Linked DNA regions of Homo sapiens: regions 2 and 3 are each linked to region 1. The links come from fine-mapping of genetic effects on gene expression. A gene starts in region 1. Each other region holds a variant in brackets. All regions are shown on one strand. Distances are from middle to middle.

Region 1 (7,960 bases):
CGGAAGGGCCCCAAGCTCGTTTTAATTCACACCATCGTCACCACCTTGTAATTCTCAGGCATTTTCAAACCAGGGGGCCACATTTTCTTCTTACCCTGGGCCCTGCAAACTCTATAGCCGATCCTGGCGAGGAACCCTGGGCCTCCGGACACCTTGACTTTTCTCTCCAGTTTCCTGAATGCCGCAGCCAGCTTTCTGGGGTAGGTTTATTTCCCATGCAGTGACTCCTTATATTTTGTCCAGGGTTTCCAAAATCAGGGGCCCAAGGACATTAACCTCAAAAAATCAAAGCATATATTGGCTGTCCCCCGGGACAGTGGCTGCCTTGTTAGGAGGTGGGTGGGGTCACTGGCACAGCCCTGGCATTGCTAAATGGGCTGTTGGCAAAAAGAGGAAACAGGGCTCTGTTCTGTAAAAACATGCGTGAGCATTTGCAGTGCTTTTTCTGGAGACTGAAATCTTTCTGTACACCTCACCAAATTTTCAGAAGTTTCTTATGAGGTATGTGTTTTCTCCAGTAAAACCAGGTGCCTCTGACTCAGGGGCACTGCCTATGGACCTGTCCTACATCTCTTTCTACCAGTTAAGGCTCAAGGATGCCTGGGTGACTCTGTCCTACGGCTTCTGCAGCCACACTGCCAGATAGGTGGTGAGCTGCCTGTCTCTGGAGGCATTCAACAAAGGCTGCACAGGAAACACCTTCTCTGGCATTAGCCTAGAGAAGCTCACCTGAGGGTGTCACTGCACAGGGTATCTGGCAGCTTCTAAGGCAGGACCTTGTCGTCTTTTCTCTCTGTGCCCAGTACTCCATACAGGAGTATAGGTGTGGGGGAGGTGTTCAGTGACTGTTTCCTTTAGGGTACGGAAACAAGTGCCAGAAGGTGGTGAGGTAAGCGATGCAAAGTTGACATGAGATGTAGGAGAGAAATTCCTGAGCTGCCCAGAAGCAGGTGATGTGCGAGAGAAGCCAGCAGCCACGGGCCCCTGGAGCAGCAGCCGCTGATACTGAGTGCCTGCCGTGTGCTAGCGGAGTGATCGATGTTCACAGCGATTGTCACCGTTCTCCCAACAACGCAACTGATACAGAACTCTTTTTGTTTGTTTTGTTTGTTTGTTTGTTTGTTTGTTTTTTTGAGACAGAGTCTCGCTCTGTCACCCAGGCTGGAGTGCAGTGGCGCAATCTCGGCTTACTGCAACCTCCGCCTCCCGGGTTCAAGCAATTCTCCTGCCTCAGCCTCCTGAGTAGCTGGGACTACAGCTGTGTGCCACCACACCTAGCTAATTTTTGTATTTTTAGTAGAGACAGGGTTTCATCGTGTTGGCCAGGCTGGTCTGGAACTCCTGACCTCATGATCTGTCTGCCTCGGCCTCGCAAAGTGCTGGGATTACAGGTGTGAGCTACCACACCTGTCTGGCAGAACTCTTATTAAGCCCCTTTTATGAGTGAGGAAACTGAGGCCCAGAGAGGTGAGGTTACCCAGCTAGAATGAGGTAGCGCTGGCAGGTGGAGGCAGGCCTGCCTCAATGCAGAACTTCCCTATAAGCCCAGGATTTTTGGTATGCTGCGACTCTACTGCCTGGGACATGAAGAAAGTTCAAGTTCAGGTTCACTTTCTGCATCCTATCTTTCCTTCATTATACCCTGGGCGGGTATAGAAGGTCCCCCAGAGGGTTTGGGGATGGGGCAGGTCAGGTTCCTCATTTTAGGGAGATTTTAACTTTAAGTGGGCTCGAGCAAGTGTTAATTACCTGGACAGTTCATGCCTGTGGAGGCCGACCCTCCCTGTGGTGCTGGGTCCATGAGATACAGACTCTCCTGCCTCCCTGCTCCCCAGATCCCCGGGGTCTCCTGCTCAAATCTTGGGCTGGGGCCAGGGTCACTAAGAAATCTGCTTTCTTTGAACACTAACCAGTTCAGGCGTACACAGGAGTTGCAGTCTCGGGGTGGGGGCATGGGTTGGGTTCAACCCCAGAGTGTTTCCTCTGTCCTGCAATGTGCTCAAATTTTGGACATTTCATGTACAAATCTGGATTTCTTCTGAAGTCAGAAGCTCTAACAGCCTCAGCCCTTATCCTCATGGCAGCAACAGGCTAGAGCCAACTGGGCACTCTGTCCCCTGCCGTCACTGCAAACACCCTCTGTGCTCCAACTGACGCCTGTAGGCTGCCCTGTGACAGCCCTGCCAGAGAGTCCAGGGACATGGTGGGGTGACCCACTCAGATTCTGGCTGGCCAGCCCTCTCGGCTTGGGTGCTCCCCTGAGGAGGACTTTGGGAGCGTAGGCACCCAGGGATGGAGGCAAGTTAGCAATGCTCTCTGGAAGGCTGGGGACCTGGCCACCACTGGGAGTAAGACCTGACAGATGGTCCCTGCTGTGGTTGGGGGCACCTGATCAAACTGGGAGGCTTGTGGAGGCCCAGGCCCAGGACAGGTCTGTGAGTTTCCAGGGCTTTGCCACCGCCGACTGGTGGGGTAGGTTTCTATCCCAGGAGTGCCCCCCAGGGATCAGACCAGTCACAGGGACAGAGGCCTTGTCTCAGGCGGAGAGAGTGGCATGCAGAGAAGCTAGCTGGAGGTATGGGCTGGGCCTGTTGCAGACAGGAATAGGGGAGGCAGCAGGGTCCCTCACCTGCTCCCCAAGGAACAGGCTCTACAGGGCCCCAGCTTCTCCTCCTCCCCAGGCCCTGTCCATGGCTGTCCTGTGACCCAGCACCTGCCAGGCTCACTTGGCACTGTGGTTGCCCCAAGCAGAGCCGACAGGACAGTTGGTGGCCAGGGAGTCTTGCTCAGGATGGTCACCCAGGACGGTCAAGGGAAGTCACTCAGGATGGTGCTGGGGGTGTGGGGGGATCAGGAGCAACTTCCACCTGAGCCCCAGGACCGGAGCATTGCAGCGGCGAGGGGCTTGCCTCCTTGTGCTGTCGGGGGTCCCTCATCCCACAGGCCCTCACCTCCTGTGCTGCCCCTGGGCAGCCTGGCCTCGGAGGGTCAACACCTGAGGGCCCGAGGGGCATCCATGCCCCCTCCTCCTTCCCTCCAGCCAAAGGTGGGGGGCAAAGCGCAGGGAAGAAAACACCAGGAGAAAACCAGAGAGCTCTCGGTTCTCTTTTAAGAGCCCTGATGGCCGCAGCGCAGAGCCCGAGGGGAGGGAAAATGTCGGGAAAGATTCTCTTCCGAACTTTGCGAGTCTTTGTTTGGGAGGCTGGGGGCTGACTTCGCCGGGGGCCGGGCCGCGGGCTCGGCCGTGCGCTCCGGTGCAGCGGCCGAGGAGCCCCGGCGCCCGCCACCCCGGGACACGCCCTCGCAGTCGAGCCCGGACCCCGACCCGGACCCCAGCGCCGCCGGGCGAGGGCGGGAGGGGGAGCGCTTACCAGATCGTCCCGAGCGCGCCGCGGTCCAGGCGGGCACAGCGCAGGGTCAAGTTCACGTCCGGCCCGCGGGCTGCCCGAGGTCCCCGGGCGCGGCTGGGGCAGCGGGAGGCGCGGGAGGCCGAGGTCCGGGTGGCCGCCGCGGCCGCCCCCGAAGCGCTGCTGTCACCCCGGCCGCGCCCCCCAACTTTCTGCACAGTCGCGGAGCTGGAAGTTTCCGGGCTTCGCGGACACGCTGGGCTGGGTTTCAGTCGCGGCTCCGAGGTTGGCAACAAAGAGGGAAAGAAGGAGGAAAAGCAGGCCGGGGAGGGGAGGAAGAGAACCGCGCGGAGGCCGCGGCGCCGAGAGCCCCAGAACTTCCAATTCTACCCAGAAGCTTTTTTCGTCGTGTTTTTCTCTTAGGTAAACAAGCAAGTTCCACGCCCCAGTCCTGCTGGGGCCTTCGCCAGCCACCGCTCTGGGCTCATCTCCCGGCGCCTCCTCGGGGCACCTGAGCGTTTTAAGCCCCACTGCCAAGTGTTTTGGACACAGGTTTTTTTGCGGGGTGGTGAGGTTGGGCACAAGATGCTTCCTAAAAGGTTGTTGGCACGCAGACCATGGCCCCAGTGACGGAGCGGTAGGCAGGGGCTTGAGGAACACGCTGTCTTTGTCTCGTCCCCAAAGCACCCGGCCGTGGGTCACCCGTGATCCCTGGAGTGGAGGGACTGTTGTGACCCCTGGTGCTCCAGGAGAAGGGGTTCCATGCTGGGTCCCGGGCCCAGGCCCACGGTGCCCTCAGCCTGCAGTTCTCCACCTTGCGGAATGATTTGCTGGCCCGGCCCAGCTCCCCGGCACCACCATTTTCTGCCCTCTTTTCCCTGCCTGGCTTCAAACCCTCCCAGGCAAGGGTCCCGAGGAGACACCTGGGCTGGGGGAGGCAACTGAGTGGCCCCAGGCCTGGGAATCTGCAAAAGTGGCCAAGCCACATCTCTCGAGACTGCAAGGGCCCTGGAGGCGCTGGGAGGCACAGATCTGGCTGCCAGCTGGGCCTGAGGCCTCCCTTTGTCCGTCCTTCCTGTTCTTCCTCACCAGGTGTGTTTACGGAGAAGACACTCCGGGCCAGGCCAGCTCCTCCAGAGCACTATTTCAGGCTGGGGAGAATGCGGATTTTTTTTTTGTTGTTGTTTTTTAAAGAAAAATGAACAAGGAGCCTGGTTGGGGATTGGGGTGGGAGGAATATTTGTCTTTTGTCCCACAAACGTGTGTGATGCTCCAAAGGGCTGGAGAACCTCTCTCTTAAGTGGATATTTTTCCCCTCAAACGACTTCTCAGACATGATCCTCTCTGAGGTTGGTCCTGGGCTTCCATACGTGATTCATGGAAGAGGTCTCAGCCCCAAGAGCCCCTGAGGGTACTGTCCACTCCCCCTGGAAACTTCCAGAACCTGACGTGGGGCTGAAGACATAGAGGTAATGGGGATGGGCTGGTGGGGCGCTGGCTGGGACAATGTGTGGAGCCCTTGTTTTCAGAGCTACAGATGCTTGTCAGCTGACAGTTCGTTTCCAGCATCCACAGTGGACCTCCTTTGGGGGAGCATTTACCTGCCAATGAACCCCAAGATCCTTTCTCAGAGGCGGCGGGATGAAGTTTTCCTTTTTTTTTTTTTTAGTTAATATATTTTATTTAAACCAATATATCCAAAATATTATCAGTTCAACATACGATCAAGATAAAGATTAATGAGATACTTTACATTTTCATACTAAATCTTTTTTTAAATTTTTGTGAGTACATAGTAGGTATAAACATTTAGGGATGAAGTTTCTTACTGTGTTTTCCCAGTAACAAGCACTGGCATCAGCTGTCATGATTTCTCCCCAAGGCCTAGGATGGTCAGCCTCGCACGCTCCACAGCAGAGTGACTGAAGCTCTATCGAGGTGTGGCACGAGCGTGTTGTCATTTCAAGAGAATCTGCAGCCTCCCTGGTTTTTAATGAAAGCTCCTATGCAGGGCCTGGCCCTTTCCTGGGGAGGGAAGGCTGGCTGTGTCTCCCGCTGCATCCTCACTGGGAACTTCATTCCTGAGCTGCGACCGCTATTTTTTGGATTGGAAAATGCCTTGGGAACGGCTCATCTTCCTGCGGCTTGAGCCCATTTGTTTTCTGACTGGTGGTCACTGGTGATTAGAGTGTGTCCCAAAGGGAACCGTCACCTTAGTTCTATCATACACTATCAATAACTTGTCCAGGGCTGACTTTGTGGCTGTGTGGCTTGCCCAGTGGTAGAGGGCCGGTGTGCAGAAGGGCCCCACACTCAATGTTTGGCTGTCCCCGGTCTTAAAATTCTTAGTCATTCTTGAACAAGGGAACCCATATTTTCATTTTGTTCTAGGCTCTGAGAGTTACATAATTGATTCTGACTTTGGCTGTTGGTCAACAGTGTCATAAGGTAAAATAAGGTAAAAATCTATGATTTTTATATTTCTTTTTTTCTTTCTTTCTTTTTCCTTTTTTTTTTTTTTTTTTTTTTTGAGACACAGTCTTGCTCTGTCACCAGGGTGGAGTGCAGTGGCGCAGTGGTGCGATCTTGGCTCACTGCAACCTCCGCCTCCCGAGTTCAAGCGATTCTCCTGCCTCAGCCTCCTGAGTAGCTGGGACTACAGGTGCGCACCATCATGCCCAGCTAATTTTTGTATTTTTAGTAGAGACGGGATTTCACCATGTTGGCCAGGGTGGTGGTCTCGATCTCCTGAACTTGTGATCCGCCCACCTCGGCCTCCCAAAGTGCTGGGATTACAGGCGTGAGCCAACGTGCCCAGCTGATTTTTATATTTCTTTTACTAAATTCTGTTTACAGAAATAATTCCAGATTCTATGTAAGATACAAATATTTTAACTGAAGATCATTGTATTTAGGGAAAATGTTCACCTTTAAGAGACAGGGGCTGGGCGTTGTGGCTCACGCCTGTAATCCCAGCACTTTGGGAGGCCGAGGCTGGTGGATCGCACGAGCCCAGGAATTCCAGACCAGCCTGGGCAACACGGCGAAACCCTGTCTATGCAAAATATACAAAAATTAGCCAAGCATGGGGGTGTGCACCTGTAACTCCCAGCTACTCCAGAGGCTGAGGTGGGAAGACTGCTCAAGCCCGGGAGGTCAAAGCTGCAGTGAGAGACCTTGTCTTAAATACAAACAGGCAGGAAGTCGTTATAAGCATAATACAATCCTGGATGTTGGAATCATCCCTGTCCAGCCTTGGCTCTGCCACGTGGGTGCTGAATGCTGCCTCAGGGACCCTGGTGCCCAGCTCCCACCTGCAGGGTGTTCTGAGGAGCCAGCACGCTGGGAGGGCCTAGCAGGAGATGTGGCATGAACCAGGTATTCGATAAATAAAAAGTGCCTTTGATTGTCACGTTTATCATTTGACATGTAGGCACAGGTGCAGTTTGATTATTTTTAATGTAAGTCTATTTTATCTCTTCCCGTTATAAAAGCAATACACACTGTGATAGACGGTTTGGAGAATTCAGGAAAGAAAAAGAAAAAGAAAAAAAATTCCTCCTAGGCCCTCTGCTCCAGAGCCTCCAGCCGTCACATGACAGTGTATTTCTTTACAATTACAGAAATAGATACGTGACTGTTACATTTTGAAACTTTTTCTTTTACCTTGACTTATTTTTAAATAGAAACACTAGTGAGGCCCCACAGAACTGAGCAGAACTAATGGCCCCCCATGTGGTGGAATAGTTCTGAGCTGGCCCCACTTTGGATGCAGCCTTCCCCGGCAAGTCTAAACCCAGTCTCTGTGGCTGCCTGTTCACAGGGACCGTGGACTGTGATGTTTACAGTACGAAAGCACTGGGAGAGAACGCTACATCACAAAGTGTCCTTAACCTGCTGCCGCCTCAGCTTTCCCATTTGTGACTTGGTTAAAAAAAATTTTTTTGACAGTTTTAAGCTCTTATTTTAATTTCCACAGGCTGTTGTAGAATCTGCTCAGCCAGGGAGGGGAAAGGAGTCGGCAATCAGGTCTCCTCCTGGGCACCTTTGTGAGGCCAGCTGGCGAGAGTGGGGGGTGACACTGAGGTCCCAGCAGCTCCAAATGCAGGCAGAGCCCTGTCCTCAGAGAAGGTCACAGCCTAGCCAAGCCCAGCCAGGTGGATGGGCCCACGGAACGCACAGGAACCTGGAACGGAGGTTGAAAGCAGGAAGCACAGTCTGTGACTCCCCAGCCCACTCTGCATTCGACCACTTGGGGCCCAGAAGCTTCAGGAAAGGTGCACAAGGTCACTGGGTCCCAGTACTCCCAACAGGAAGGTCTGGTCCAGGGACAGGGCTCTTCCCGACTCCCCTTAGCCACACGCACCAGAAGTTCTGCAGTGCCCAGTGGGCATAGCAGTCCCCAAGAATGACCCAGCACTGAAGCTGAGCCAAAGAACTTGGGGAGCGAGCCACACCCCCTCACTCCCTCTTCGCCTGCTCCAGACTTGCCAGGCGGTTGCTTTTCGTGGGAACCGGGATGTCCTCACCACCCTGTCCAGGGCCCAGCCCCATGTCCCTGGCCTGCTACAGCTGGAAAAAAAAAAGAGAGATGTTTGTTTTTATTTGTTTAT
Region 2 (7,960 bases), 19 kb after region 1:
AGAGGGCATTCCACGGGCAGGAGAGCACCATGTGCAAGACAAAGCTGGGGTGGCTGGAAAACAGCTGGGGGTGGTATCCAGCCAGCTAAGCAGGGACGGGGTTAGGGACGCATAGGAAACTGATGCTAGCAACACAGTGTAGGGAGGGTAACATCCAGGCTTCTAAGTGATTCTGTATTTTGAGACAGGGTCTTGTTCAGGCTGAGTGCAGTGGTGTGATCATGGCTCACTGCAGCCTTGACCTCTTGGGGCCCAAGCAATCCTCCCTCCTCAGCCTCCTCAGTAGCTGGGACTATAGGCGTGTGCCACCACGCTGGGCTAATTTTGTGTTTTTAGTAGAGATGGGGTTTCACCATGATGGCCAGGCTGGTCTCAAAATCCTGACCGCAAGTGATCTTCCCGTCTTGGCCTCCCAAAGTTCTGGGATTACAGGCATGAGCCACTGCACCCGGCCTTATTATTATTATTATTATTATTTTGTGGAGACAAGGTATCACACTAATGTTGCCCAGGCTGGTCTGGAAGTCCTGAGCTCAAGTGATCCGCCCACCTCAGTCTCCCAAAGCGCTGGGATTACAGGCAAGATCTACTGCGTCTGGCCCTAAGTGATTCTTAGAGCAGCGAGGTACATGTAATTATGTCTACTTCATATTTAAGGTTTGGAGGGAAATGAGAGAGGGCTGGGGAAAGGCCTCGAACCCCCAGGCTAGATTTTCTGCTGTCTGAGGGTCTGTCTGAGGCTGGCTTCTCTCCTTTGGTGCCCATTTCACCGCCTCACCTGGTCCCTCTTTCTTGGGCCTGAGACTGGCTGGGGCTGCTTGTCTATGGGGCCCAGGTTCTTGTGCTCTGGGGGAAACGCACCCTCGAGCATGATGCCCCCAACACTGGGGGCTGTCTCTGGTATCAGGTGGGGCCGCTGACTTCACACGTGCCAGGAGGAAAGTGCTACAGGAAGTTGTGGGTCCTTGGCAACCTCATGCCGGAGGCCCCAGGTCTGCAGTTCCAGTCTCTAGACCTCCTGATGGGCATCCTGGCCAGGCACTGTGTTCCTGCACACACCTTTCTGCAGAAAGACAACTTGCTCACTTCCCCAGAGGCTTGGGGGTGGGGACGTTCCTGTTGGACAATGGAGCCCACACACCCAGTGGGGAGCTCCCAGGAGAAGCCTGCTCCCACCTCCCAAGAAAGGCTCTGAGCCTCTTTCCAAGTACTGGAAATGCCAAATGCGGTGACCTGTCCCCATCCACCATCGTGCAGAGTGACCCACACTGGTGGGCCTTCACCTATCCAACTGTGAGGTCATTCAGTGCGTCCTGGGTGCCACTGTGCTGTGGGAATTCAGAAGTCCTTGCCTACTCGAAGCTCCCAGTCTAGCGGGTGGATGATAATATTGCCTGAGCAGGGCTACACTGTGGGAAGGATGATGATAAGGGCAGAACACTCTGAGGGCTGGTCCCAACGTGGAATGCTCAGCTCCGTTAGTCCTCAAGGCATCTCTGGAGACGGTGACCCAGACTCAGGGCTCAGGGTGACTGTCCCCAGGCCAGCAGGCTGGATAATGGCAGAGCAGGCGGGAGCTGGGGGAATGCCATCTTTACCACTACCTTCCCTGCACCTGCTGGGAGACCCCAGCTCTGGAAGTGCCTCTGGAGATCATGAAGGGCAACCTGCCTCATTGTTCAGGGGAAATCGAGGCTGAGAGAAGATGCCCCAGGCCCCACAGAGAGTCCTGTCAGAGTCCCAGAAGGGTCCTACGCCCCAGGCTCCCCAGCCAGCCATTCCTGCAAGGTGCACCCGCCCTTCTGGCTGGGCAGAAGGCACCCACGGCAGCCGGAGAGGGGGTCTTCTGGCAGGAGGAGTGGAGGTGGAATCGGGTGGAGGCACCTGGCAGCTAGGGTCGTGGGGAGCTCCTGGCAGAGTAAGTGGGGTCTCCTGGCGGCAGGGGAAGCTGGGGGAGGGGGCCTGGTAGGAGGGGGCTCCCGGCAGGGAACGTGAGGGGCTCCCAGGCCGGGCCGGGCCGCCCGCCCAGACGCGCTGCCAGGCTGATTAGCATGGGCGAGGGGCGCTGGCGCGGGGACGCCGCCGGCCGAGCTGGCACGTCCCTCGCGGGCCCAGCTGGCCGGGGCGAGACACAAAGCACCTCAGACGGTGGCGGCGCTCGGCCATTCACGCGCAGGGGCGTCCCGGGCGCGGGCGGCGAGGAATTCCCGCCGCCGGGGCGAAGACCAGCCCCGCCCGGCGCTCCTGACCTTGAACCTTTGTGACTGGAGCGCATGCAAATCGCGGCGGGGCCGCGCCAAGCCCCGAGGGCGCTGCGCCGCCCGGCGTGTCCGGGGAACAATGCGCCACTGTCCCCACGCGGCGCCGCGGGCTGGGAACTGCGCAGAATGTCAATGCGGGCCCCCGGCGCGGCGGGGCGCGGCCCACGGGCGCGTGCGTGTGCGGGTGCGTGCGGGTGTGTCCGGGTGTGCGCATGTGTCCCCGTGTTGGCCCGGGCTTAGCTGGACCCTGGGCCTGGTCCCGGACCCTGCGGCCCTGGCGACCCTCCTGGAGAGAGAGTCCCTTTGCGACCAGGTCCAAAAGATCTTAGGCCCTTGGAGGTGACTGCTTCTCCCTCCTTCCTGCCCTTCTTATTTTTCTTTTATTAGGTTGATTTTTAAAGATCCTGTAAATGATCAGTAAGGAAATAAAGGCTGCCCCCAATGACTGTCCCAACCCAGGGAGAGCTCTGCTGCGTGGAGAGGAACTCCCTCGCCTCCTCTCTCCCCTTGGGGCAAATTCTTCCTCACAGCCCAGGGTGAACTTTCAATTCAGCGTCTTGACTTTTTCCTGGAAAATAACATTTGTCATCAACCTCTTACCAATGTCCCTTTTAAAAACTGCATGGTACTGTTCTGTGCTGTGCCACAGTCCCTGCCACTGGGTTTCCCGGTCACAGGGACAACAGCTTGTCAACAGGGTCTTCCGGGGCCGTAAGTGGATGTGCAAAGAGAAAGGACAGGGACCTCACCAAGAGCTGCTAAACTACAATGTGCTCAACTGAGCCCAGAAAGGCGCCAGGCCCACATGTGTGTCCTGCGGCACCCCTCCCCACCTGCTCAGACATGGTTTAAACAGACAAGACAGAAAAAGCACACGTGCCAGGTAGGCAGCTGCAGCTGATTTTTATGTACATGTGCCTGACCAGGTGATTCCAGCAACTTCTGTAAATTTGGATTGGGCACATTTGTGATAGGTGACAGAGCCACAACCCAGAGTCTGATGTCCCCGCCCCGCAGCTGACTGGCGACCCATCACTTGTCCTCCAGAGACTCGGTATCCTCACCTGATTAGGGGTCTGTGAGCACTGCCTGCCCATCTTGCAGAGGCAGTGGCTGTGAGGGTCCCTGCGCACACGCACACCTGTGTGGGTGGGGAGCGTGCACACAGGTTCATTTCTGCCAAGGTGCTGGGGAGCTCAGCTCTGTCATGGCAAGGGCTCAGGACAGGAGGAAGAGGTTCAGAGAAGGCGATCTTGGGCAAGATGCTCCCTGTCTGGGCCTCAGTTTCACCAGAGCTAAAAGAGGAGGTTGTAGAGACGCTCTCTAAGCATCCTTCCAGCTTCTCCAGATATACATGAATAAGATCACTCTTTCAAGGATGGGGATGGTGTACAGGGCTGGATCCTTCCCAGCCAGGGTGCCTGGGATTATTGGCTTTCAGCAGCCGACTCACGGAGGCCTCCTTTGGGCTAGGCACTGGGACAGACCCCTGCCTCCCCAAAGGCATGAGACCCTGGTCTGCCATTTGGGAGCTCAGAGCCTGGCTAGAGGCAGGAGAGGTGAGGAGGGAAGATAAGGACACAGATGGTGAATGTGGTGAGAAAGGAAGCATGAGGGGGTGGGCATGGTGCATGGGAGAACAGAGGAGGCGATGGAGGAGTCCAGGAAGCCTTCCTGGGAGGCGGTCGCCTGAGCTGAGCCTCAAGGAGTATGAGCAGCTTCTCAACAGGAGAAGAGAGTGGAGAGCACTTTGGGCAGAAAGTTGCAGGCAGAGGGAGCATTCCAGGCAGAGGGAGCATTCCAGGCAGAAGGAGCACTGCAGGGAGAGGGTGCACTCAGGAAGCAGGAGCACTCAGAGAGAGAGAACACTCCAGGGAGAGAGAGCAAGAGGGTGCAGGGTGCACTGCAGGGAGAGGGAGCACTATGGGGAGAAGGTGCACTCAGGGAGCAGGAGCACTCAGAGAGAGAGAACAATCCAGGGAGAGGGAGCAAGAGGGTGCAGCGTGCACTGCAGGGAGAGGGAGCACTCAGGGAGAGGGAGCACCCAAGGGAGAGGGAGCACTCAGGGAGAGGGAGCACTCAGCGAGAACACTCCAGGGAGAGGGAGCAAGAGGGTGCAGGGCGCACTGCAGGGAGAGGGAGCACTACAGGGAGAGGGTGCACTCAGGGAGCAGGAGCACGCAGAGAGAGAGAACACACCAGGGAGAGGGAGCAAGAGGGTTCAGGGTGCACTGCAGGGAGAGGGAGCACTCAGGGAGAGGGAGCACCCAAGGGAG[A/C]GTGAGCACTCAGGGAGACGGAGCACTCAGAGAGAGGGAGCACTCAGGGAGAGAGAACACTCCAGGCAGAGGGAGCAAGAGGGTACAGGGTGCACTGCAGGGAGAGGGAGCACTCCAGGGAGAGGGAGCATTCCAGAGGAGGGAGCACTTAGGGAGAAGGAACATTCTGAAAGAGGAAGGACACTCAGAATTCACTTTAAAGAAATCCTTTCCTTGGGCAAATTGTCCTATTTCTTTGCATTTACAGACATTCTGCCTCATGGGTAGCCAGCAGGACTAGAAACACCAACATTAAAATAAAATATAGAAGTTGGTCCAGCTAAAGGAAATGTCAGGGTGGGAAAATGAAACGGGGGAAGAGGGTGAGTTGAGTTAAAAGAAAAAAAAAAAAAAAAAAAAGCCTGCCTTGAACTCCTGAGGAGTCGCAGGTTGGGAGGCCACTAATTTCTCAGTCCCAAGATTTGAGTGCCTTTAAGGAGAAGCTGGTTGCACAAGAGATGGGCAGGTTGATTCTGGCCCCAAAAGCTGGAGGCCTGTGAGCTGCATGGCATCAGGTCCTCACCATGGCCCCCTAACATCAGGGCAGGAGGAATATGGGGTGCACCTATCAGGGGCTGGCTGAGTGGCGGCTGGGCCCTACCTGCCAGGTCTGCTGCTCTCAGAGTGGGCAAAACCAGGAGAGGAGAGGAAGCCTTGATGTGGCAGGACACACTGCATAGTGCACTCTAGGGTCTGGAGGACACCTGGGAAGGGAATTGGCTCAGACTTGGGAGTCAGGGATGGCTTCCTAGAGGAAGTGATGGTGAAGAGTTGGTCTAATTTTGGCAGGGAGGTAAATCGCTGTAAAATGGAAATAACAGCAGTACCAACCTCCCAGGGTGGGTGAGGAGCAAGCAAGCCTGAAGCACAGTCAGTACTGGTGGCCGCAGCACAGCTTCCGGGTCCTCATTTTGCTGGAAGTCTGGCTGTTCCAGAGGCAAGGCTGGGACATCCTGAGGGTGTCTGGGAGGGAGATCCAGTTCTGAATTCTTGAGTCCTTTGTACTCCTACTAGTAAAATATAACTTCTGAAATGAAATTTATGTCATGATTGATGGATCTTCACTCCCAAAGACATGCTTGGAAAACAAACAAAAGCTTAAAAGGCTGCAGCCCCGAGGTGACTGCTGTGTTGTCAGCCTCACTGACACCTGGGCACCTTGGAGAGTCGGAGCTGGACAGGGCTGTGGTTTCTGGTGGACAGAAGGGGAGACTGAGGCTCTGGGCTTCTGGTCTAAAGCCAGGATGGGCCAGGGTGAGAACCAGTCTCCCGCCTTCTCGGTCTTTCCACTACTTCACCGGATTCCTCGGATATTAGCAATGGAAAAGCCATCCCATGTTTGGGAAGGAGCGAGTCATACTTTCCATCCTGGCTTCTTGCGAACACCTGGGTCTCAGTGAGTCCCCCACCCATCCCACGCAGAAAAGCTGGGCTGCGTCACCCAGGGGGCGGTTAATGAGGATGCTTTGGTGGTGCTGACATCACGGACAGGGCTCCTGTGTGGATCGGCCGCCTGGGCTCCAGCTGGCAGCCATGTGACTTGCCCCCTTGGCTGCCATCGCCCCAGGGAGGGGCCTTGGGCAGAGGGGCTGGCTCAGTGGGCAGCTGCCAGGGCTGGTGGGGGCTGACCAGAGGGTATTGGCAAAGTCTTAGAGGTTTCCGGGCCCAGGAGAGAAGGAAGGGAGTGTGGACACTCGGCCTCTGTTTCACGGCATCCTCCCACCTTTGACCTCAGTGGTGCGAGGGGAAGGAACCAGCCCTGGAGCCGCCTGCCTGGCTTGACCCTGGCTTGCTACTCATGGTCCCGTGTGCCTAGACAAGCTGTTTCACCTCTCCAGCCTCAGTTTCCTTCTGTGTGAAATCGGATAACAATCGTAGGGTGTAATGTGGAAACTGCAGGGAATTAGGAATTAGGACGGTGCCGGGCACATAGTAAGTGCTTAGTAAACGCTAGCATCCTGGAGTCTCCCTCCCTCCACACCCAGGCTGTTTTGACCTGTGCTCTGTACTTCTGTTCGCCAGGCCTGAGGTCCCAAACTGCAAACTGCTCCATGTGGATGGGCTGGGGGCTTCCTTTCTGCCTTATTCCCTCCCTCTCTCCCTCCTTTTCTTCCTTCCTTTCTTCCCTTCCCTTCCCTTCTCTTCCCTTCCCTTCCCCTCCTTTTCCTCCTTCCTTCCCTTCCTCCTTTCTTCTCCTCCTTCTTCATCTCTCCTGTCTCTCTCTCTCTCCCTTCCTGCCTTCTTTCTGTAAACTTGATTACTGTCTGCTTCTGTGCTGGTGTCTGTGCTACTTTCTAGAGACAGAAAGTAAAATTAGACAGATATCGACTCTGTTATTCTGTGCTTACAATCTAGTACAAAGCAGCAGGCATTGGCTAAATCAGAGCAGTACTGTCCAACAGACATTTCTGTGTGCTTGAAATGTTCCATATCTGGACTTTCTAGTGAGACAGCTACTAAATGCATGGGACTGTTAAATACTTGAAATGTGGCTCGTGTGACCCAGGAGCTGAATTTTAAATTTCATTTAATTTTAATTAATTTGCATTTATATTTATTTATTTTTGAGACAGGGTCTCACTCTGTTGCCCAGACTGGAGTGCAGTGGTGTGATCTTGGCTCACCGCAACCTCCGCCTCCCAGGCTCAAGTGATTCTCCTGCCTCAACCTCCCAAGTGGCTGGGATTACAGGTGCGCGTCACCACCACCCAGCTAATTTTTTTATTTTTAGTAGAGATGGGGTTTCACCATGTTGGCCAGGCTGGTCTTGAACTCCTGACCTCAAATGATTCACCTACCTTGGCCTCCCAAACTGTTGGGATTACAGGTGTGAGCCACTGCCCCGCGCCCAGCCTGCATTTATATTTAAATACTAACACGTGGCTAGTGGCTACCATATTAGATGGCACAGATTCACAGTTATACTCCCATTACATCACCCTGTATTATTTCTCCATAACACTTATTATAGTTAATTTAAATTTGTGAGTTCATTTTTTTGTACTCTGTCTTTCCACAATGGCGCGTACCATAGTCTGGTTTCCTTGGAAGCAAAGCTTGAGACAAAGACTTGTCTGCAGACATTTCAGCTGGAAATGAGATTCCTGGGAAAACCAATACAAGGACGTTTCACTGAGTCAGTCACAGCTGCAGGAGGCTCATACCTGCTCCTGACGGGGGTTTCTGGGGGATCTCATGAAATATATCTCAGAACTGACCACCTGTGAGAAGAAAGAGAGCATTTCTCCATCAGCTCAACTTGCCACCAGTCAAGGTGGTTCTGTAGACATTAACTTCCAGCATTCCCATGTTGCACGAGTGTGACTGCAGAGGGCTCCACCAGGACCACTAAGTCGCATATTCAGAGAAGCACCTGGACAGGAA
Region 3 (7,960 bases), 41 kb after region 1:
CCCGGTGTCCCTCTCAGGGCCCCTCTTGGCCCCATGAAAAGGCGGCACCCCCACCCCTTGCCTCTCCTAGCGCTGCCAGGCTCCCCTGCAGGTGTGACCTGCCTCGCAGAAGCTGCTGAGAGGCAGGAACTGAGCAGGGAAGTGTCCCAAGGGGTGACTCACTTCCCTCACCCACGTTTCCCCCTCTCCCTGCCAGGCCCTGCGCTGGGCGGGCCCTAGGGCCACAGGGACCAGCATGGCCCGGCAGCCCCGGACCTCCCAGGTGGAAGGAAGGACCCGGAGAACTGGAAACATCCTTGCATAGCAGCCCCCGAGTTGGAGGCAGCCACTCGGCACCTGGCACCTGGCCCAGGGGGGCCTCCTGCGGACTCACGTGGGCTCTGGGAGGTGGAGGAGGGTCACTTCCCCCAGGGGAGAGCGGAGAAGGCTGGCAGGACCCTGCTGTGGGTGTGACTGGGACCGTGCTGGGCCCTGCGTTGGCCAGCAGTGTCCCGAGCGGGCCTCCGCGCCGGCAGGCCCAGCTGGGCCTATTTCTGACTCGAATTTGTTGCGAAACGTCGGCAAATCCCCTGCCCTGGCTGGGCCTCAATTTCCCCATCTGCAGACAGGAGGCGGGCGAGAGGGCCCCCTGGACTTCAGGGCCCGTGGGTCTGACGGCCAGGGCTGCAGCTGAATCTCCGAGTTGGAGATGCCTGGTGGGGTGCAGCACACCCTGCGTGCACAGATGAGGGCCGGGCTGGCTCCAGGCGTGCGGGAGGCAGCAGTGGAGCTGGGATCGGAGTCTGGACTCCTCTGCTGGCCTCGAGTGACCCCGGGGGCCTTCTTGTCCCCCCTCCTTGCAGGAAGCACAGGCACCAGCTCCTGAAAGCAGAACAGCTCCCCTCTGCTGCCCCCTGGTGGCTGCAGTGACACATGGTGGCCCAGTCCAGAGCCAGGGCACCCCCAGGGTCACCGACACCCTCAAAGTCATGAGCTCCCCTGGGGCCATGGGTGTCGTAGGGCTGGGGCCACCCTCTCTGGGAGCCCTGGGTGAGAGTGTCACTTGTGATATTTCATTGAATCTTCACCCCTCCCACACACAAGAGAGGGATGATCATGTTTGCCGCTTCACAGCTGGGTTGTCAGTTTCAGGGGGCAGAGCCTGCAGGAAGCTGGGGCCGGAGAGGTTTGAAGTCAGATATTCCAGTGGAAAGTGCTCCCCTCCCCTCCAGTCAACAGCCACCTGGGGCTTCAGGCTCTAGGAGGGGAGGAGTGGGTGGGGAAGGTCGAGGCTTATTATTCTTCGGGGTGTGGGGGTGGTCACTAAAATGGGACCTGGTGGCCGGGCACAGTGGCTCACGCCTGTAATCCCAGCACTTTGGGAGGCCGAGGCGGGCGGATTACCTGAGGTCAGGAGTTCTTGACCAGCCTGGCCAACGTGGTGAAACCTTGTCTCTACTAAAAATACAAAACTTAGCTGGGCATGGTGGCACACACCTGTAATCCCAGCTACTCAGGAGGCTGAGGCAGGAGAATTGCTTGAGCCCAGGAGATGGAGGTTGCAGTGAGCTGAGATCATGCCACTGCACTCCAGCCTGGCCGACAGAGCTGGACTGTCTCAAAAAAAAAAAAAAAAAAAGAAAGAAAGAAAGACGGGACCTGGCTTCCTAACTGAGGGAAACTGAAGAGAAGGGCCCAGTTCACGGGAATAAGGTGCCAGTTTGGGATGCCCCTACAGGGCCCTAGGTGCAGGGGACAGGGCTGAGGGAGCGGGGGAGGCGCCAAGATGTCAAGGCCGGCAGCCGTTCTCCTGGGGCAGAGGGCCAGTGCCCATGCCCGCACCTTGGGTCCCCAGGGCAGCCAGGTGGAGCCATACCACCTCCTCGGGCTTCACCTGCAAGCCCAGGCCCTGTGCTCACTGAGCCCCCACGCCCGCCAGGCCACTTCCAGAGGCTGTGCACACCCTCTGCCCAGATCCAGGAGAGGGGCTTTCACACAAGGAGGGAGAGGCTCAGAACCCTGGCAACCTACCCAAGGCATGGCACATGGGGCTACACGGGTGGATTGGAAGCTGGGTTGGCCACCTGAACCCCTGGGGTCCTGGCATTTCCAATGTCACCATCAGAAGGGTGGATGGAGGCCGGGCGTGGTGGCTCATGCCTGTAATCCCAGCATTTTGGGAGGCCGAGGCAGGCGGATCACCTGAGGTCAGGAGTTCGAGGCCAGCCTGGCCAACATGGTGAAACCCCGTCTCTCCTAAAAACACAAAAATTAGCCAAGCATGGTGGCAGGTGCCTGTAGTCTCAGCTACTTGGGAGAATGAGGCAGAAGAATCGCTTGAACTCGGGAGGCGGAGGTTGCAGTGAGCTGAGATCACACCACTGCACTCCAACCTGTGCGACAGGGCAAGACTCTGTCTCAAAAAAAAAAAAAAAAAGAAAAAAGTAAAAGAAAAAAGAATGGAGGACGGAAGGGCCACACCATGCAGGTGCTGGGGTCCTGGCGTTTCATTTTCAATGTCACCATCAGAATGGAGGATGGGAGGCCGCCCCGCGAATGGAGGGCGGGAGAGCCATGCCATGCAGGTGCTGCCTGCTTGGGTTCCTGTGCTGGGACTGCCTCTCTCATCTATCACCTTGCACCTCCATCGCTGTGACACCCTTCACCCGCCGGGCCCCCACAAAACATGCTTGGGCTCTGCAGCCAGACTCCATCCTCCCCCACCAACCGTCCGACTCCTAGAGCCCTCTCCTGGACCCCCAGCACAGCGCGTGCGTGACGGAACCCTGCAGAGCCACTTCCTGTTAGAATCAGAAGGGCTGTCAGCCACTAAACCCAAGTGCCAACTTTTGGTGACGGAGAAATAGATCCAGATAGAGGGAGGACTTGATCAGGCCCAGGGTGGCCAGAGACCCTTTGGACTGCGACCAGAATCCCAGGGGCCTGTCACCGGCCCAGCGTCTGAGGTCCTGAATCCCTGGAAATCAATAAAGGCAGGCAGGTGGGAGGCTGGAGGCCTCGCAGCCCACCCAACCCACATCCACCACACTCTCACACCAAGCCCTCAGCGTGCTCGGAGCATGGCGGTGGGCTTTACCCCTCCAGCCCCTCTACCTGGGATGCCACACAACTCTTCAGGGCCAGGGGAGTCCCCTCCTAGGGCCACCGTCCCCAAGGCACCCAGGGATGAGTCACTCTCTCTCACCCCAGGCCACCCAGGAGAGTTGACATCAGTCACATGTCTGCCCCTCAGACTGGGAGAACCCTGGAGCAGGGACCCCATCCCCTGCCTCTGTGAATCCCTAGCATTGGCCCATGGTGTGAACACCAGCAGCCACAGCACTGAGACCTAGCCAGGGCTTCCCAGTTTCCTGGGCACCAGCTGTTCTTCGCAGCCTCTTCCATGCTTGCTGGGAAGCAAGGTCTATCATGACCCTAGGCGCAGAAGGACAAGAAACAGAGAGGTTGAGTAAGATGCCCGACGACACACAGCTGGAGTCAGCAGAGGCTGGAAGGGTGCTGGGCGGCCTGGCTCCCAGCACGAGGCATCCTACCTGAGGACAGTAGACGGGCAGCTAAAGGACCCTCAGCTGACCACACAGGCCGGGCCTGGGCATGTCTGCGGCATGACCCCCTTGGGCCTTGTCACCTCCTCTCATCCCCTAGATCGCAGGACAGCAAGGTGGTCACACCCAGATTGCCTGAGTGTGCATTCTTTCCTTCCACGTCGGAGCACTTGGTCGGAATCCTGCCCACACAGGATGCACCTCACGAGGTGTTCACTCACCAGTCTCCCAGAGCAGAGGGGTCTGGGGAGAGGGGACACAAGATGGCATTGGGAGTGACAGCAAGACTGACTGTCTTGCGGGGCCCTCAGGCGCTGGCCTCCAAGGCCAGGTCCCCCAGGAAAAGCCTAGACAGAGGGGAGCAGGAAACCCGGTCCCAGCCCAGGGCGCCCACTCCCTGCCGGCCAGGCCAAGCCTCCCGCGTCCGGCCTCCTGGGTGCTGCTCACTCATCCATCAGACCAGTGTGATGGGGTCATTCGCTCCCATTCCCAGGCGGGGGAGGCTCCAGGAGATGTGGGTGGATGTGGGTTTACCCTGTGGATGGCCTGAGGCCTGAGGACTAGGAAGGTCCATCTATCTGTCCCTTGGCAGATGGCCACAGTGCCCAGGGCGACAACAGGGTGAGCTCTGCTCACATGGGTCCTGATGCAGATAGGGGGTGTCTGGGCCCCTGTCACCCCTGTGGAGTCTTCCTCGCCTTCCTCTGGGCGGGTCTTCTCAGGTCCAGCTCAAGGGCATCTGGGAGGGGAGGTGGCCTGAAAGCTCGGAGGCCCTGCAAAGCTGGCTGCAGTTAGGAAAGCCACTAAGTCATTATTTTGGGGTTAAATCAGAACTAATCTACCCAAGCCAATGGCTGGGTCCCCTGAAGGGAGGACACTCATGACTCAGCTGCTTGAGCCTGGGGAAGTGGTGTCCCTGAGATCCAGGAATGTGAGGGAGGATGACACCATCCACCAGGCCTGGCCCAGCGGGAGCAGCTAGTGTGGCTGCCTCTC[G/A]CTGTGCCCACCCCACCCTCAGCATCTGGCTTTGTCCACCTCTGGCCAAGGCCCACTCTGTTTGGGCTGCACTGTTGCCCGGAAGCCCTCCATGCCCCAGCGAGAGTCTCCCTCCCTGGCCTCTGTCCCTCCATTTCTCCATCAGTGGCCACCAGGGCAGTTTTCTTTTTCTTTTCTTTTTTTTTTTTTTGAGACGGAGTCTCACTCGCCCAGGCCGAAGTGCGGTGGCACGATCTCGGCTCACTGCAACCTCCGCCTGCCGGGTTCAAGCAATTCTCCTGCCTCAGCCTCCTGAGTAGCTGAGACTACAAGCACGCGCCACCATGCCCGGCTAATTATTTGTACTTTTAGTAGAGATGGGGTTTCACCATGCTGGTCAGGCTGGTCTCGAACTCCTGACCTCGTGATCTGCCTGCTTCAGCCTCCCAAAGTGCTGGGATTACAGGCGTGAGCCACCGCAACCAGCCCACCAGGGCAGTTTTCTTAAAAGGGGACCCTGCCTGGTTATGGTAATGGCTCTCCTGCTGGCCCTGGGGGCGGTTCAAGCCTTCAGGGCAACTCTCAAGGCTTCCAAAGCACACCCCCACCCCTCGTTCCTCCCCCCACTGCTCCTTCCCCTTTGACGCCCCCTGCTCTGCTAGGCTGGGGATGTAGGGTCTGAATGTGCCATCTGGACCCACCAACCCCTCACCCAGGCTGTGCACCGGAGAGACCTCACTGTGGGACACAGGAGCCAGGGTGGGCAAGGGGGTAGGGGGCTGCTGCCGTCACCACTGAGGAGTACAGCCCCACCCTTGGCCTTGAGCAGCCCCCAGTCCTGCGTGTGGGGCCGCCAGGCTGCAGGGGGCCTGGACCCATGGCGGTGGCTGTTGATTCAGCTGTCTGGTTGGCGCCAGCTCCCCTGCTGGGGCCGAGTCTTTCTGGAGTTAGACCCTGCAGCCCTGTCCCCACTGAGCCAGCACGAGGGCAGTGACCGTCTCAAAGCAGCTCTTCTCCATGGAAGTCTTAAGGGGCCCCTTGGCCGGAGTCCCACGAGTGACAGCTGGCAGCCCTCTTGGCTCCCTGGGGGAAGCAGATAGTGTGGCCCCTTAATTTGGGCCACTTGAGGAGCGTTTAAAAACAGGACAAAGGCGTGGGCCCAGCTCAGGAAAAGCTAGGAGGGAAGGAGCCGTTCTCTGGGGCTGGTGGCCAAACGGGGAGGTAGCTGCAGCCACTGGTGGCAGGGACCCTTAGGCCTCCTGCCAGTGCCTCGCGCCGGCAGAGGCCACGGACAGGTCCCAGCACAGGGAGCTGGCAAACGTGCCCACAGGGTCGGCCTCTGGGCCAGCTGGAGCAGGTGCAGTGAGGGGCTGGGAAGGCATAGAGAAAAGCGGCAGCGGGGCTCTGAAGATGCAAGCCTGGTGGCTGGAGCATGTTCCAGTGAGGGACAGGCAAAGCTGCCAGGGCAAAGGGCGGATTTCCTGATACAGGAGTGGAGGATGCTGTGGAAGGGCTGGATCTCCCATCCAAGGCGTCTCCTAGAGCCACACCATGCCCCATCCAGGGTGGTGCTAATGCTTCTCCCCTGGGTCAACTGGGCCTGTGACCACCCCGTGAGTGGGTGGTGGAGGTGCCATGTGAGCACTGGGCTGGGCTGGGAAAGCCCCTGCATCTGCCTGGCTCTCCAGGGGTGCTGGCTGGTGGAGCTCAGATGATACCAAGTGAGGAAACCTTGATTCTGGCCCAGCCCTGGAGCTCCCTCTAGCTGAGGCCCCCACTGGGGGGAACAGAAACCAGGCACTCCCACTATGACCCATGGAGCATAAGAAAGTGGCTGTTGTCAGTGTCTATGTTTTGGGGTAACTGGAGAAGCCCCAAGGCTTCCCTGGTCTCCCCTGAACACTCTTGCACCTTCTGGCCCACGTGGCTCGGGGCTCTAGAGGCCACAGCAGGTCAAACGAATGCCACCATCTGTGCTCACTCCAGGGGACCCCCGTGTCCTTGGCCTGGATCCACCTGCATCCAGGCTTGGCCTGTATGGAGCCATCATCTGCCCAGGGTGGAAGGGGCAGGAGACATCGAGGGGTAGGGTGGGGTGGAGGAACTTTCTCTTACAGCCACGTGAGAGGCCTGGTCTGCCCAGCGGGGTCCTGAGCTGTTGGTTCTCCAGGCACCTTCAGAGCCACTGGGTTGGGGGTTGGCCAGACTGAAAAGACTGGATGCTCAGGGCTGTGCTCCCTCCGCACCTGCCCTACCTGCAGGGAGGCAGGAGCCCAGCTGGCCAGTGGTTGGGTGAGGACAGAGGTGAGGGTGCTAGGAGCAGCCACTAGACACAAAACCAAGTCCCTCAGCACAGGCCCCTCATCTGGGAGGCACCTGGATGGGAGGACAGGTCCGGCCAAAGAGGTGCACACATGTGGGGCTGAGGAATGGGGTCCCTGCACAAAGCCGGCGTCTGCATCATGGGCAGACAGACCACCATGTCCTCATGAAGTGCTGGCTTCTTTCCTTCCACCTCCTCATTTATAGGGTTGGAAGAGTGACAGCTGAGACCCCAACCTCAAGTGCCCAGGCTGTTGTGAGGACGAAGCAGGGGGCTGTCACAGGTACGGGCTGAGGGCCTGGCAGGTAGGGGCTGTTTCACCTGGAAGCCCCAGAGCCCGGGAGAGTGCAATGCTCCGAACATGTACAGGATGGGAAGGAATTCCACACGCTCTTTTCCTGTGCCATCCCCAGTCCGCCATGGAAGGGAAGCATCAGGAGTAGGATGTGGTGCCTTTTAATTGTACCCATAGAATAGTAATTTGTGTAAACTGCCCCTTTCCCTTTTTGCCTCTGCCACTGGGAAGCTTGGAGCCAAAGCCGTGGGCCTATCTCTGCCTCCACTTAGACCTACCTTCTCTCCCCGTTCCCTTGGTCTTTCACCTCTACTTTTAAATACATGTTCTGATGTTCTGCGGCATCTTTGCTGCACCCCCAAATCCCTTCTGGACAAGGCGACCCCTGGCTCCTTCCTTTGAGCTCCTTGGTTTCTACAACCCTTAAGATGCCCCCACCCCACAGTGGCGAATTTCACTCTCTGGGAAGCGCGGCAGCAGGTGCCTGGGACGCGCCCACCGGAGCCTGGGCTTTGAATCCCTGTCCCCTACTCCACGCAGTGTCAATGTCGCCTGGCCGCCTGCACGTCTGTTTCCTTTGTGCTCAATGCATTTTCTAAGGCAGGTGCCAGGTGGTAGCTGTCAGTGTCATTTCTATTTCTGCTGTTGATTTGCTTGTCTGCTTCTCCAACTGCCTGGCCCCCAGGCTCCTGAGCTCAGCAGGCAGGGAGTGCATACAGAACATCCCCCCACCTCTGAGCTGTCCCCTGTCATTGGACAATGCCCCTAGATGGCACCTCAGGCCTCTGCGGGAGTCTGGGGGCTGTGGGAGTCTGGGGGCTG

Which allele goes with the higher level. Alleles are on the strand shown, and positions count from the first base shown. SD is a standard deviation of normalised expression in the study named.
For the expression in visceral fat of the gene that starts at base 3,511 in region 1, A is the low allele of the variant in region 2 and C is the other (small effect, 0.21 SD a copy in GTEx).
For the expression in cerebellar hemisphere of the gene that starts at base 3,511 in region 1, allele A in region 3 goes with a lower level than allele G (large effect, 0.77 SD a copy in GTEx).

What was found. PIP is the estimated chance that this variant, and not a neighbour inherited with it, causes the effect.
Region 2: its variant is the best candidate, but not a certain one, in a credible set for the expression of LINC00899 in visceral fat (GTEx, PIP 0.80).
Region 3: its variant is the best candidate, but not a certain one, in a credible set for the expression of LINC00899 in cerebellar hemisphere (GTEx, PIP 0.76).

What each region holds. Positions count from the first base shown.
Region 1 is chr22:46,040,419-46,048,378 of GRCh38, reverse strand. LINC00899 (long intergenic non-protein coding RNA 899) reads left to right here and starts at 3,511. Exons shown (of 4, transcript NR_027036.1): 1 at 3,511-3,770; 2 at 4,680-4,816; 3 at 5,739-5,805; 4 at 7,327-7,960. It overlaps LOC124905135 (collagen alpha-1(III) chain-like), which reads right to left and starts at 3,735. Exons shown (of 2, transcript XM_047441696.1): 1 at 3,372-3,735. It overlaps LOC124905136 (a long non-coding RNA gene), which reads right to left. Exons shown (of 2, transcript XR_007068137.1): 2 at 7,942-7,960.
Region 2 is chr22:46,021,843-46,029,802 of GRCh38, reverse strand. No RefSeq gene overlaps it. Among named protein-coding and RNA genes, the nearest start is that of LINC00899, 19 kb to the left of the region's middle. RefSeq lists an enhancer at 490-1,043. The variant A/C (reference allele first, on the strand shown) is at 4,538.
Region 3 is chr22:45,999,450-46,007,409 of GRCh38, reverse strand. It overlaps the pseudogene LOC730668. Among named protein-coding and RNA genes, the nearest start is that of WNT7B, 26 kb to the right of the region's middle. RefSeq lists enhancers at 142-1,133, 6,207-6,376. The variant G/A (reference allele first, on the strand shown) is at 4,542.